3 linked regions of the Homo sapiens genome follow. The protein of the gene in region 1 interacts with the protein of each later gene in a biochemical or structural test. Each region holds a gene or a part of one and is shown in the gene's direction. Other genes may lie near its edges.

Region 1 (3,751 bases):
AAGAGAGGATCTGGTTCTTTCACCCAGACTGGAGTGCAGTGGCATGCTCACGGCTCACTGTAGCCTCGACCTCGCAGGCTCAAGCCATCCTCCCACCTCAGCCTCCCTGGTAGCTGGAACTAGAGGTCTGTGCCACCATGCCTGGCTAATTTTTTTTTTTTTTTTTGTAGATACAGGGTTTCCCCATGTTGCCCAGGGTGGTCTTGAACTCCCGGGCTCAGGCGATCCACCTGCCTCAGTCTCCCAAAGTGGTGGGACTACAAGTGTGAGCCATCATGCCTAGCCATCATATGCATTTTTAAAATTATTTTTTCTTTAAAAAAATTTTTTTCTGTGCCCATTGACAGCAGATATTATATGCATTTTTGACAGGAATACCACAAAAGTGATACTGTGTCTTTTTCAGCGCATCCCATCAGGAGTCATATGATGACAGTGAAATTTAAAAAACCACTTTGTTTACTGAATAATTTAACAGGAGTACTATTTATGTAAGATGTGCATATAACTCTTGAGCATTGCGAAATTCTTCCAAAGACTTCTTCTTTCATGCAGAGTAAAAGCCATGCATTTTACAATGGTGCGTGACCTGGCGTCCAAGACCCACTCCTCTTTGTCTCTCCTCTTGCTCACAGCATTTCAGCCATGTTGCCTGCTGGTCCTGGACCTCGCTCTCTGTTGTATCCACAGTTTTCTCTGCCTGGGATGCTGCTCCTTTGCTGGCTACATGGCCTCTTCCCTCAACCCCTCAGAGTTTTGCTCAAATACCTCCTTTTCAGTGATGCCTTCCCCACTGAAAATGTCAGCCTGCCATTCTGCAAACTCTTAGCTCTCTCTCCACTTAATTTTTCTCCATAGTCCTCATCTCCATTTATGTTCCATCCTGTTTACTTATGTTTTTCATTTTCTGTCTCCCAGTCTCCTCTTCAGCCCCCTAGACTGTAAGATCCTTGAGGCCAGGGCTTTTGTCTGTTTTGCTCACCGTTGTCTCCTCAACATCTAGAGCAGTACCTGCCACAAGTCAACCCTCAGTAGATACTTATTTTCACAATAGCAGCCCCCTCTCTGTTCCCATTCTTTCTCTGGATATATTTTGAATAGCTCTGAACCAGGGCTATTGAGGATTCAGTGGCAAGTAAGTCCAGGGCCCGTTTGTTCAGAGAGCTTGCGCTAGATTGCCTGAGTCACTGTTACTACAGTTGTGATTAGTGCCTGGTGCAGTGCCAATGCAGTAGGTGTTCAAAACATGTTTGTTGAGTGAATAAGTGAATTATTTTCAGGCATCTTAACGGGCAGCCTGGGATGTTTTTTGGGTTAGACATATTGGGAAGGAGGGATCTTCAAATCATTGCCCAGGGAATAGGCCTGGGCCCTAAAATTCATTTTAGACCCAAAATTCAGGTTTCAGTTGTCCGTTCTGAGGAAACCCCAAAGGACACACAGGCTGGAGGCTATGAATCCCCAGATGCTTTACAGCCTGAGTTGAGATCTGCTGGACAATAAAAGGGCACAGGTGACACCTTATAGATTAGCTCCAAGGGTTGCCAGCTGTTTGCGTAGATTGTGTTGGAACTGTCACTTCTCAGGGAGTGGTGTCTAACTGCGACTGCTTTGGCTGGGATCCAGGCAAGCTGTAGAAGGGCTGGAGTCGTTTTTGCTCTTCTCTTCCTCATTGCACCTCCCCTCCAACAAAGGGTGAATGGCAAAGTAGCTGGACACAGAAAAGAGATTGGAATTCAATGTACCCTGGGCTACAGCACCATCCAGAAAGGAATCCACTGAAATCACTTCAAGGAGAGACAGGGCATGTCTTGTTTTTTTTTTTAATTTTTTATTTTTATTTATTTATTTTTATTTTTTTGTGAGACAGGGTCTTGCTCTATCACCCAGGCTGGAGTGCAGTGATGTGATCACAGCTCACTGTAGCCTTGACCTCCTGGGCTCAAGCAATCCTTCTGCCTCAGCCTCCTTAGTAGCTGGGACTACAGGCATGTATCACCACACTTGGCTTATTTTTAATTTTTGTGTAGAGATGGGGTTTTGCTATGCTGCCTGGGCTGGTCTTGACCTCCTGGGCTCAAGCAATCCTCTTGCCTTGGCCTCCCAAATTACTGGGATTACAGATGTGGGCCACTGTGCCCAGCCAGGCCATTGTCTTCACAGACAAACCTCTCTTATTGAAGTGCAACATACAGAAAAGTACACAAAATTACAAATGTACATCTCAATGAGCTATTGTTAAATGAACACACTCTTGTGTCTACCACATGTTCTCTCCCATTCATTACTTCCTCTGTCTTCCATAAATATAGCCACAATTCTGACTTCTAACATCACAGATTTGTTTTGTCCGTATATATGGAATCAAACGGTATGCACTCTTGTGTCTGACTACTTTTGCTCAACATCTTATGAGATTTATGTATGTTATTATTTGTAGCAGATCATTTTCATGGCTGTATAGTATTTTATCGCATGACTATATCATAGTTTATTCACCTTTTCTATTATTGATGAACCTTTGGGTTGCTTTCAATTTTGTTTTTGCTATTATAATAATGCTGTGATGAGCCTTTTGTGCATGCATGTCTGTTGGGTATATCTCTAGGGGCAGAACCATGGAGTATGTGTACGTAACTCTAGCAGATGCTGTCAAACTGTTTTCCAAAGTGGTTGAACCAAATAGTGCATGAGAGTTCCATGCTGCTTTGGGGCCACTGGCTTTTGGTTCTGAAGGTCTGCAGATGGAAAATTAAATTGTGGAAATGTGGAGCTTGGCAAGAGGCCAAAGGCAAGGGAATTACAGCTCTGTGATTTCTCTGGTATCCTGCATGAAATTCTGACAATAGAGTCATTTTTAGGAGTTATGTGAGATGCATTGTTGAATTAATTAATTTAAACGGATTCATGAAGCCCTTGCTTGGGTTGTTCATTTTGCTGTTGTGACGTTTGAATTTCTTGTCTATTCTGCATATTAGTTGCCTGTAGGATTCATAGTTTGCAATTTTTTTTCCTATTCTATTGGTTGCCTTTTCACTCTGTGAATTGTTTCCTTTACTGTACATGATTTTTTTTTAGTTTGCTGTAATACCATTTGTTTATTTTGCTTCTGTTGCCTGTGCTTTTGAGGTCTTATTCATAAACTCTTTCCCCAGCCCTTATTATGCTCCAAGAACTATGCAAGGTTTTGTGGGGGAAACAAAGATGAAACAGATGTCTATTCTACCCTTAAGAATCTTTCAGACAGAGGAAAATGGGTATGTATAATTACAACTATAAGGGAAGATGGAAATGCTATGTGTCATTAACAGGCAAGATACATTTAGAATAAAAAAGGAGCTAAGAAGATGAAGATTCCTTCTAGGTAGGAACACTGGGGAACTGGCCTTGAAGAATAAATAAGAGTTTAGGAGGTAGGTACAAAGTAGAAGGACAATTGAAGCAGAGGAAACAGCTCAGAAAAGCCAGGGTTGCATGGGGTTTGGATGGGAAACAGGAAAGGGAGATGCACTTGTTATCATGGAGAAACAATATCACATATGAGATGATTTGGTTAACTGATGCAAAGAGTGGGACTTGGGCTAGGTGAGTTTTGACAGAGGTAAGGGAGTTGCATTGCCTGAGGAAGAGAGTTAATATGGTCAGTATGAAGCTAAATAGAGAGGAAGAAAGAAATGGGATGTGGGCCCTATAGGATACTTTATCTATCTTATGATTTTGCCCTGACTAGAGCTGGATTGCCCCAGTACTT
Region 2 (3,751 bases), 1.5 Mb from region 1:
GCTGGGTTCTACTTTTGAATAACCCTCACTGTTATTCCACTGTGGCTCCTCCACTGGCCAAACACACCAGCCTGGACTCCAAGCAAAACCTCCGTTGAATTAGAAGACTCAACAATGATGCAAGATGGAGCTAGAAAGGGACGGTGGAAAGAGGTCAGAGTGTTTAGGGAGTCAAGTGTGCCCAATAGTTGTACGAAAATATAGTGGGAAGCATCAGATAGCTGAAAGTCTTAGGGTTTGTTTAATTTTTCTGGTTTACTGAGAGCTAAGCAGAAAAACATTTTGCTTCTTTTAAATTTAGTTCTCTGGCTTAAGAAGTAGAGTATAATAAACATAACTGCTAACAGAGAATCCTAAAATAATCTTTCTCAAACACTTACATATAAGGTTAAGGAGACTACAGATTTCTAAGAATCTTCAGTATATTAATGTTTACTCTGAATATCTGAAAGAGACTAGAATATAAAATGATCCCCAAACACCTCACTTATACTATTTTTCTTTTGCTATAGAGGACATTATTGAGGCAGTTGACAAAATTTGAATAAATTCAAATTTTGAATAAGATTAACAAATAGTACTGTATCCAGGTTAATTTCCTGATTTTAATCATTGTAGTATGGTTATGTAATATCCTTACTTTTGAAGAAATACTGAAGTATTTAAAGGGATATTATGTCTGCAAATTAACTTTGAAAATAGCTTATATATATGTGTATATATACATGCACAATATATGTGTATATATTTGGAAAGAGAATAAAAAGCAAATATAATAAAATGTTAACATTGGGGTGTGGGTGAAATATATGGTAATTTTTAAAAATTATTTTTGCAACTTTGCTATGTCTGAAATAATTTCAAGATAAAATGTCTTATAAAAAGCAACTTATTTTAAGACTTTTTTTTCTGTTTATTCTTTGGGAAATTCTGGATAATTCCTCAGTACCCTGTTTTGTCTCTTGTGTGGACAAAATAGAGGGAGACATCCAAATCATTTGTAACTCAGACACAAAGAGGCGTTTCACTGGGGAGCAGCTTTGAGCTTAGAAGCCTGCAGTGATGCCTTTTGTTGAAATGACTGCATTAAAGGAACCTCCTTGCAGATGACTTTGATGTCAGCCTGTACCTCTAATACAGAGGTTAATCAGGCGCATATCAGAAAACCTTCTGATCACCAACCCCTTTCTCTAGTCTGACTTGGTGGCCATATGAAAACCACAGTGACGATCAAGAAAACCAAATACACAAAAGTAGAGGAAGAAAATTCATGTGTGTGTGGGTGTGTAAGACAGAGTCTTGCTGTCACCCAGACTGGAGTGCAGTGGCGTGATCTCGGCTCACTGCAACTTCCGCGTCCTGGTTCAAGCGATTCTCCTGGCTCAACCTCCCGAGTAGCTGGGATTACAGGCGTCTGCTACCATGCCCAGCTAATTTTTTGTATTTTTAGTAGAGACGGAGTTTTGCCATGTTGACCAGGCTGGTCTCAAACTCCTGACCTCAAGTGATCCACCCACCTTGGCCTCCCAAAGGGCTGGGATTACAGGCATGAGCCACTGAGCCTAGCCAGAAAATTCTTTTCATTTTAAAATTATTTCTAAAAGGTTATATTAGAAAATAGTGCTTGGTGGGCCAGGCATGGTGGCTCCCGCCTGTAATCCCAGTACTTTGGGAGGCTGAGGCAGGCAGATCATGAGGTCAGGAGATCGAGACCATCCTGGCTAACACAGTGAAACCCCATCTCTACTAAAAATACAAAAAAAAAAAAAAAAAAAATTAGCCAGGTATGGTGATGGTGCTTGTAATCCCGGCTACTTGGGAGGCTGAGGCAGGAGAATGGCATGAACCCGGGAGGCGGAACTTGCAGTGAGCTGAGATCACACCACTGCACTCCAGCCTGGGCCACAGAGTGAGACTCCGTCTCAAAAAAAAAAAAAAAAAAAAAAAGTACGTGGTGTATAGCTGGTAAACAGAAAACATCTATTTACAACTTAACTGAGTTGTGTTGCCATTCCCACTTTCTATTTACATTGGGACTTTTTTGGTTTTGTTTTGCCCACATGGAGATTGTGAATTCATCAAGTATACAAATTGTGTATTTTAAATTCATAAAGTATACAAAATGCATATTTTAAAGACATGGAATCAACCTAAATGCCCATCAGTGATAGACTGGATAAATAAAATGTGGTACATATACACCATGGAATACTAAGCAGCCTAACTGTTCTCCAAATTTGAAAAACCAAATCAGAGGCTGGTGGTTCACCTTTTAAAGCCAATAAAGAGAACCAGCCCCAGCTTGAGATGGAGAGGATCGAAATTAGAGTTGGAAGCATTTATGGTAAAATCTCTCACATGGGGATCAGAAAGGAGCTTAGGTCAAAAAAGAATGAAATCATGTCCTTTGCAGGGACATGGATGGAGCTGGAGGCCATTATGTTTAGCAAACTAATGCAGGAACAGAAAACCAAATACTGCATGTTCTCACTTGTAAGTGGGAGCTGAATGATAAGAACACATGGACACACAGAGGAGAACAACACACACAGGGGCCTGTTGGAGGGCTCAGGGTGGGAGGAGGGAGAGGATCAGGAAGAATAGCTAGTGAATGCTGGGCTTGATACCTGGGTGATGGGATGGTCTGTGCAGCAAACCACTACGGCACACGTTTACCTATGTAACAAACCTGTACATCCTGCACATGTACCCCTGAACTTAAAATAACAGTTGGAATTTTTTTTAATTGCATTTTTGCATTCCCATCAGAAGTCCACTTCCGATAGTCCCTTAAGATAGCAAAGCCCGCCTGTAGGTACAGACGTAAGCCCTTACAGGGGTACCCTTCACAGTGTATCTGCGAGAACTGCCCCAGGTAAACTTCCCAAGGATGGGGTTCACTTGATACTATGGACTGCGCTGGGATCCCTTGATTGCAAATCCTCTTTACTCAGAGTGGCTCAAGTCAGAGGTTGGTCTTAGAAATGAGAGTTTCTGTGAACTGGGAGTGGTGTGAGCTCCAGCCACTTGTTTTCAGTTTTTCAGCTCATAGAAGGGCAGCCCTGAAAACCCACTGCTTTGAGAAGTGTCACATTTCACACGCAATTGCATGATAATGAGTGATTTCCTTTCTTGTATTTTTGCAGACTGCAGAAGGTTCTCCAAAACAGGTCTTTCCAAGCCTAAAGGAACTGATCTCCAAATTTGAAAAACCAAATCAGGGGATGGTGGTTCACCTTTTAAAGCCAATAAAGAGAACCAGCCCCAGCTTGAGATGGAGAGGATTGAAATTAGAGTTGGAAACATTTGTGGTAAAATCTCTCACGTGGGGGTCAGAAAGCAATCTTAATCCTATTTCCACCAATGCCTTACTTTGTAAACTCAATACAGACAAATGCTCTTTTCTGTGACATTATCTCTAAAAAGCTTCATCCTACTAAGAGCAATTTCCATTTTGTTGAGAAGTGCTGTCTTTTAGTCCCTGAGGGCCAAGACAGAGAGCTTGCTGCGTTTGCAGCCAGGATAGCAAGAGTGGTTCCTGGGCAGACAGCTGACTTCAAATTCATTCTGTGACCTTGTGCAGACGATTCAAGTTTGAGAATAAATGGGCAAATGGGCAGATTTTCAAATGAGAAAATCACTCTAGCCCTTCAAGCCCTCCCCAAAGCGTATACTGTTACACTTTGCTCAATATTTGCTAAGCATTCATTTATAAAGTGCTGGGTGTCAAATTATGTCAGATACATTTTTA
Region 3 (3,751 bases), on another chromosome or scaffold:
TGCTGGAATTACAGTCATAAGCCACCGTGCCTGGCCCATTTTATGCCTTTCTAAATAAGCTTATGAGATACAAGAACATGAATGAGCTTATGAGATACAAGAAAAACCTTTAGAAGGACATGAAATGTAAAAATGGCAAAAATCAGTTATTCAAACTCAGCCATATTTGTATTTACAAAATAAGTCATTTTATAGAATTACCCATTAAGAATGGGAAACAGGAACAAAAAAGGGATTTCAAGGCTTTTTTTTTTCTTTTTTTGAAAAAACCAAAAAAAGCAGAAGCAAAATGGAAGTTGCTGTGGTGGCTGGTGCTCTCTCCTGGGCTCAAGGTCTTGGAGACCTCCCTGCCATAGTTGATAAAGCGTGGAACGCTGGAGACCTGAGCTGGGTGCTGGCAGGATTTGAATGGTGGACTCCAGGGATCTTTTGGCCGTGAAGATCTGTTTCCAATTGCATCTCATAAGCTCATTCATGTTCTTGTATCTCACAAGCTTATTTAGAAGGGCATTTCGTGAGATACAAGAACCCCAAACCAGAAATCAAGGAAGTTTTTCTCTTCAGTGCTCTGTGCATGTTAAGCCAGTACAGGATTTCATCCAAAATCCCACAAAACGATTCTGTTAAAATGGGGCACAGGCAAATACTTGAGTGGTAAGGGCCCCTCCAACAGTTGAATGGACATTACTGCTGCACCTTACACCCACCCTGCAGCATCAGAGGGGATACAGTGTTTTCAAAGGAACGGTGTCAGCCACTGCAGGTGAGAGTGTAAATTCCACCCCTGCTCCTTTAGGGCAACCTGTGAGCAGCTATTACAAAGCAATTGGTGAGACGCAGCATGGAAGTCTGGTGTTTATGGCTGAGTTGATCCACTGGGCTTCGAAGCTGGAAGTAACTGGGACCCTGGGGAAGGTTAAGTCCAAGGCCCTCCCAGAGTGAGGGCTGGAAAGAACTGAGGAGCCTGGTCCCTTGTCCTGGTTTCTGTCTAATTGAAGGTGTTATAATGGGGCTTGTGTTTCCTACTTATGTTCCAGTGGACTATGGCCTAGAGACCTGGGAGTGGGGAACTCCAGGATGCATGGCTGGGAACAGTCAACATAGTGAAGAGCTCTGTGGTTGGCAGCTGGGTCAAATCCAGTTTCAGCTACTTTTTTAAAATTTTATTATTATATTATTATTATGCTTTAAGTTTTAGGGTACATGTGCACAACGTGCAGGTTTGTTACATATATATACACGTGCCATGTTGGTGTGCTGCACCCATTAACTCGTTTTGCTACTTTCTATCTGTGTGACCTCGGATAAGTCCCTTAACCTCTTTTGAGAGTGGCAAGTACTGGCAAATCAGTTAATATCTGGCCAGATGCTGCCACAGGATTCTGGACTAGGGGCTTGGGACTCAGGTGAGGGTTTTGATCTTTGTGCTGCTGCTGGTCTACATGACTTTGATCAAGTAATGTGACCTCTTGGGATTTCAGTTTTCCGCTGCCGTATTTCCCATTGAGATAAATGAGACGAACCAGACACAACAGGTGCTTGGCACCTGGGGAAGGGCCCAATAAATGGCTGCTTAACAAGGATGAAATGGACCATGGGGGCACCTTGTTCATCCCTTTGTCCTGGCTAATGATCAGGAGGTCATTTTGGGTTTCTCCTGATAAGGTAAGATGCACATTAACTCTCAGCAGGGTTTTTTTTTAGCATACTCTGTTCTGCCTCCTAGCCTTTGCTTAAACTTAAAGCCAGTTCCTCCTGCTTCATCTTTTTTGAAAGATTGAGTTCAGATGCCTGCTTTTTTCCCCTGAAAGCTTTTTCTGAGCCCTTTAAGTGCCTAGCCACACTCCAGATTAAATTTAGGATTCCTTCTTGCTGCTCTCTGCCCGCCGTGCCCCCAGTGCATGCTTCTGCTGCTGCACTTGTAACTACATTAGAATTCTCAGTTGATTAGTCTGTTTCCCCATGGGCAGAGAGCAGGTGTAATTATCTCCTGCTGCTGGCATGGCTGACCGAGGAGGTCCCTTTGGTATGGGTGTGCAGTAGAGGGAGGTGGGGGCAAAGGGCAAATCCTGGGCCCCTCCCCATTCCCCTCATTTGCATCCTAGTCCCCACCTCAGTGCCTGGCATAGAGTTGACATTTGATTAATGCCTTCCCCAATGGCTGATTAATGCTAACTGAGACCCTGGTAAATGCTGCAGGCTGTGCATACATTGTAGCTTTTTGTCTTCCCAGCTGCCCCTTGTGGGCATTTAACCTCCATTTTACAGATGAGGGAACCGAGCCACAGATTTAGAGCAGCTTGGCAGAAGGCTGAGCCCGGCTGGAAGCACAGACAGCCCTGGCTGAACACCAGCCTCTCACTCCTCCTTCTTTGGATCCTGGGAGGGTCTCTCTAGTGCTACTCTGTAACCTTGAGAGCTACAGAGTAACAACTCCAGGCACCTCCAGGGACTTGGAGGGAAAGGAGGAGATAAGAAACAGAACAAATAATGGTAATTTTAACAATAGCTTAATCTAAGGAGTGCTGACTTTGTATCATTGTTTTAAGGGCCTGAGATACATTATCTTGTTTAAGCCTTACAAAAACATTTAGATGGTGGATACTGTTACCTTCTTTTATGGGACTGGAAATGAGCCCAGAGGATCTAAGTGACTTCTTGCAGCCTAGCTGGCAAGGGGGTCCCTGGTGGTTCAGCTCCAGGGCCTGGGGAGCGCCTTCACTCTAAGTCCTATTTTGGGGGCAGGCAATGTGTTTCTGGGGATTTGGGAGGCAGAATGAGGGAATGGTACAGAGTGAGGGCTCAGGGAGGGACTAAGGGATTTTGAGCAGAGGAGTGACATGATTTGATTCATGTTCTAAAAGGATCCTTCTGGCTCTGCATCTGAGAATTGACCCTAGCAGGTCAGGGAAGAAGTGGGGAGAGCAGGATTAGAATAGTTCAAGTATGAGATCCTAGGAGGAGCCGGTGAAAGGGTGAGATGCGTTGGAAGTGGTCGTGAGAGAGTCCACGCAAGGATTCCTCCAAGGTTTTGGGCCCAAGCACCTCTCTGACACTGACCACCCACAAGCATAAACAGCAATCAAGGACACCTCCTAGGTGCTGGCCGTCACCCCAGGTGCTTTGCTGGGGCATTTCTGAACACTCCCATTTTAAAAAGGCTAAAACTGAGGCACAGAGAGGTCAAGCAGTCTACCCAGAGCTACACAGTCAGCAGGAACCTTCTCTAGGGTTTGAACGTGAAGCTGCCAAGACCTGACATTTCCTGCCTTTCATCCTCATTTCTATGCAGAGGAACCATTTGCCAAAGTCTCCATGGATGATTCTGAAGGTTTAGTTTGTTTTTCGTTTATTTCATTTTTTTTTTTTTTTTGTTCTTAATTTTGCTCAGGAATAAAGAGATGGTTAGAAATCTCTAGACAGGATAGAGAAGGATGTTGGAGATTAGGGGTGAGAGGTGGGAGCCAGGCTGGGCTGCTTTGGCTATTCAAATATTCTTTAGGATAAGAGTGGGTGGGGAGAGAGGGGACTCACTGCCAGGTCAGGGTGATTTGGTTATTCAAAGCCCACGTAACGGTTGGGTCCTTGAGGTCAGGGGCTCTTCTCACACTTCAGTTTCCATTTAAACCTTTGTGTCCTGCCTTAGCTCTCTGAGTGGCCAGCGATGCCTTGCCACTAGAACCTTCTCCTAAAACTCATCCTGATTGACATGAGACAGGATTTTGGTTCCTGAAGTTCATGCCCTGTTAAC

What was found.
Region 2: the proteins of CD244 (region 1) and SH2D1B interact in a biophysical measurement, tested with the Homo sapiens proteins (one study listed by IntAct).
Region 3: the proteins of CD244 (region 1) and PLCG2 interact in a biophysical measurement, tested with the Homo sapiens proteins (one study listed by IntAct).

Annotation. Positions count from the first base shown.
Region 1 is NC_000001.11:160,856,159-160,859,909, reverse strand, and holds part of CD244 (natural killer cell receptor 2B4 isoform 1 precursor), read left to right. Parts: intron 1-3,751. UniProt on the Homo sapiens protein: Heterophilic receptor of the signaling lymphocytic activation molecule (SLAM) family; its ligand is CD48.
Region 2 is NC_000001.11:162,398,483-162,402,233, reverse strand, and holds part of SH2D1B (SH2 domain-containing protein 1B), read left to right. Parts: intron 1-3,146; coding exon 3,147-3,311; intron 3,312-3,751. UniProt on the Homo sapiens protein: Cytoplasmic adapter regulating receptors of the signaling lymphocytic activation molecule (SLAM) family such as CD84, SLAMF1, LY9 and CD244. In SLAM signaling seems to cooperate with SH2D1A/SAP.
Region 3 is NC_000016.10:81,782,140-81,785,890, forward strand, and holds part of PLCG2 (1-phosphatidylinositol 4,5-bisphosphate phosphodiesterase gamma-2), read left to right. Parts: intron 1-3,751. UniProt on the Homo sapiens protein: The production of the second messenger molecules diacylglycerol (DAG) and inositol 1,4,5-trisphosphate (IP3) is mediated by activated phosphatidylinositol-specific phospholipase C enzymes. It is a crucial enzyme in transmembrane signaling.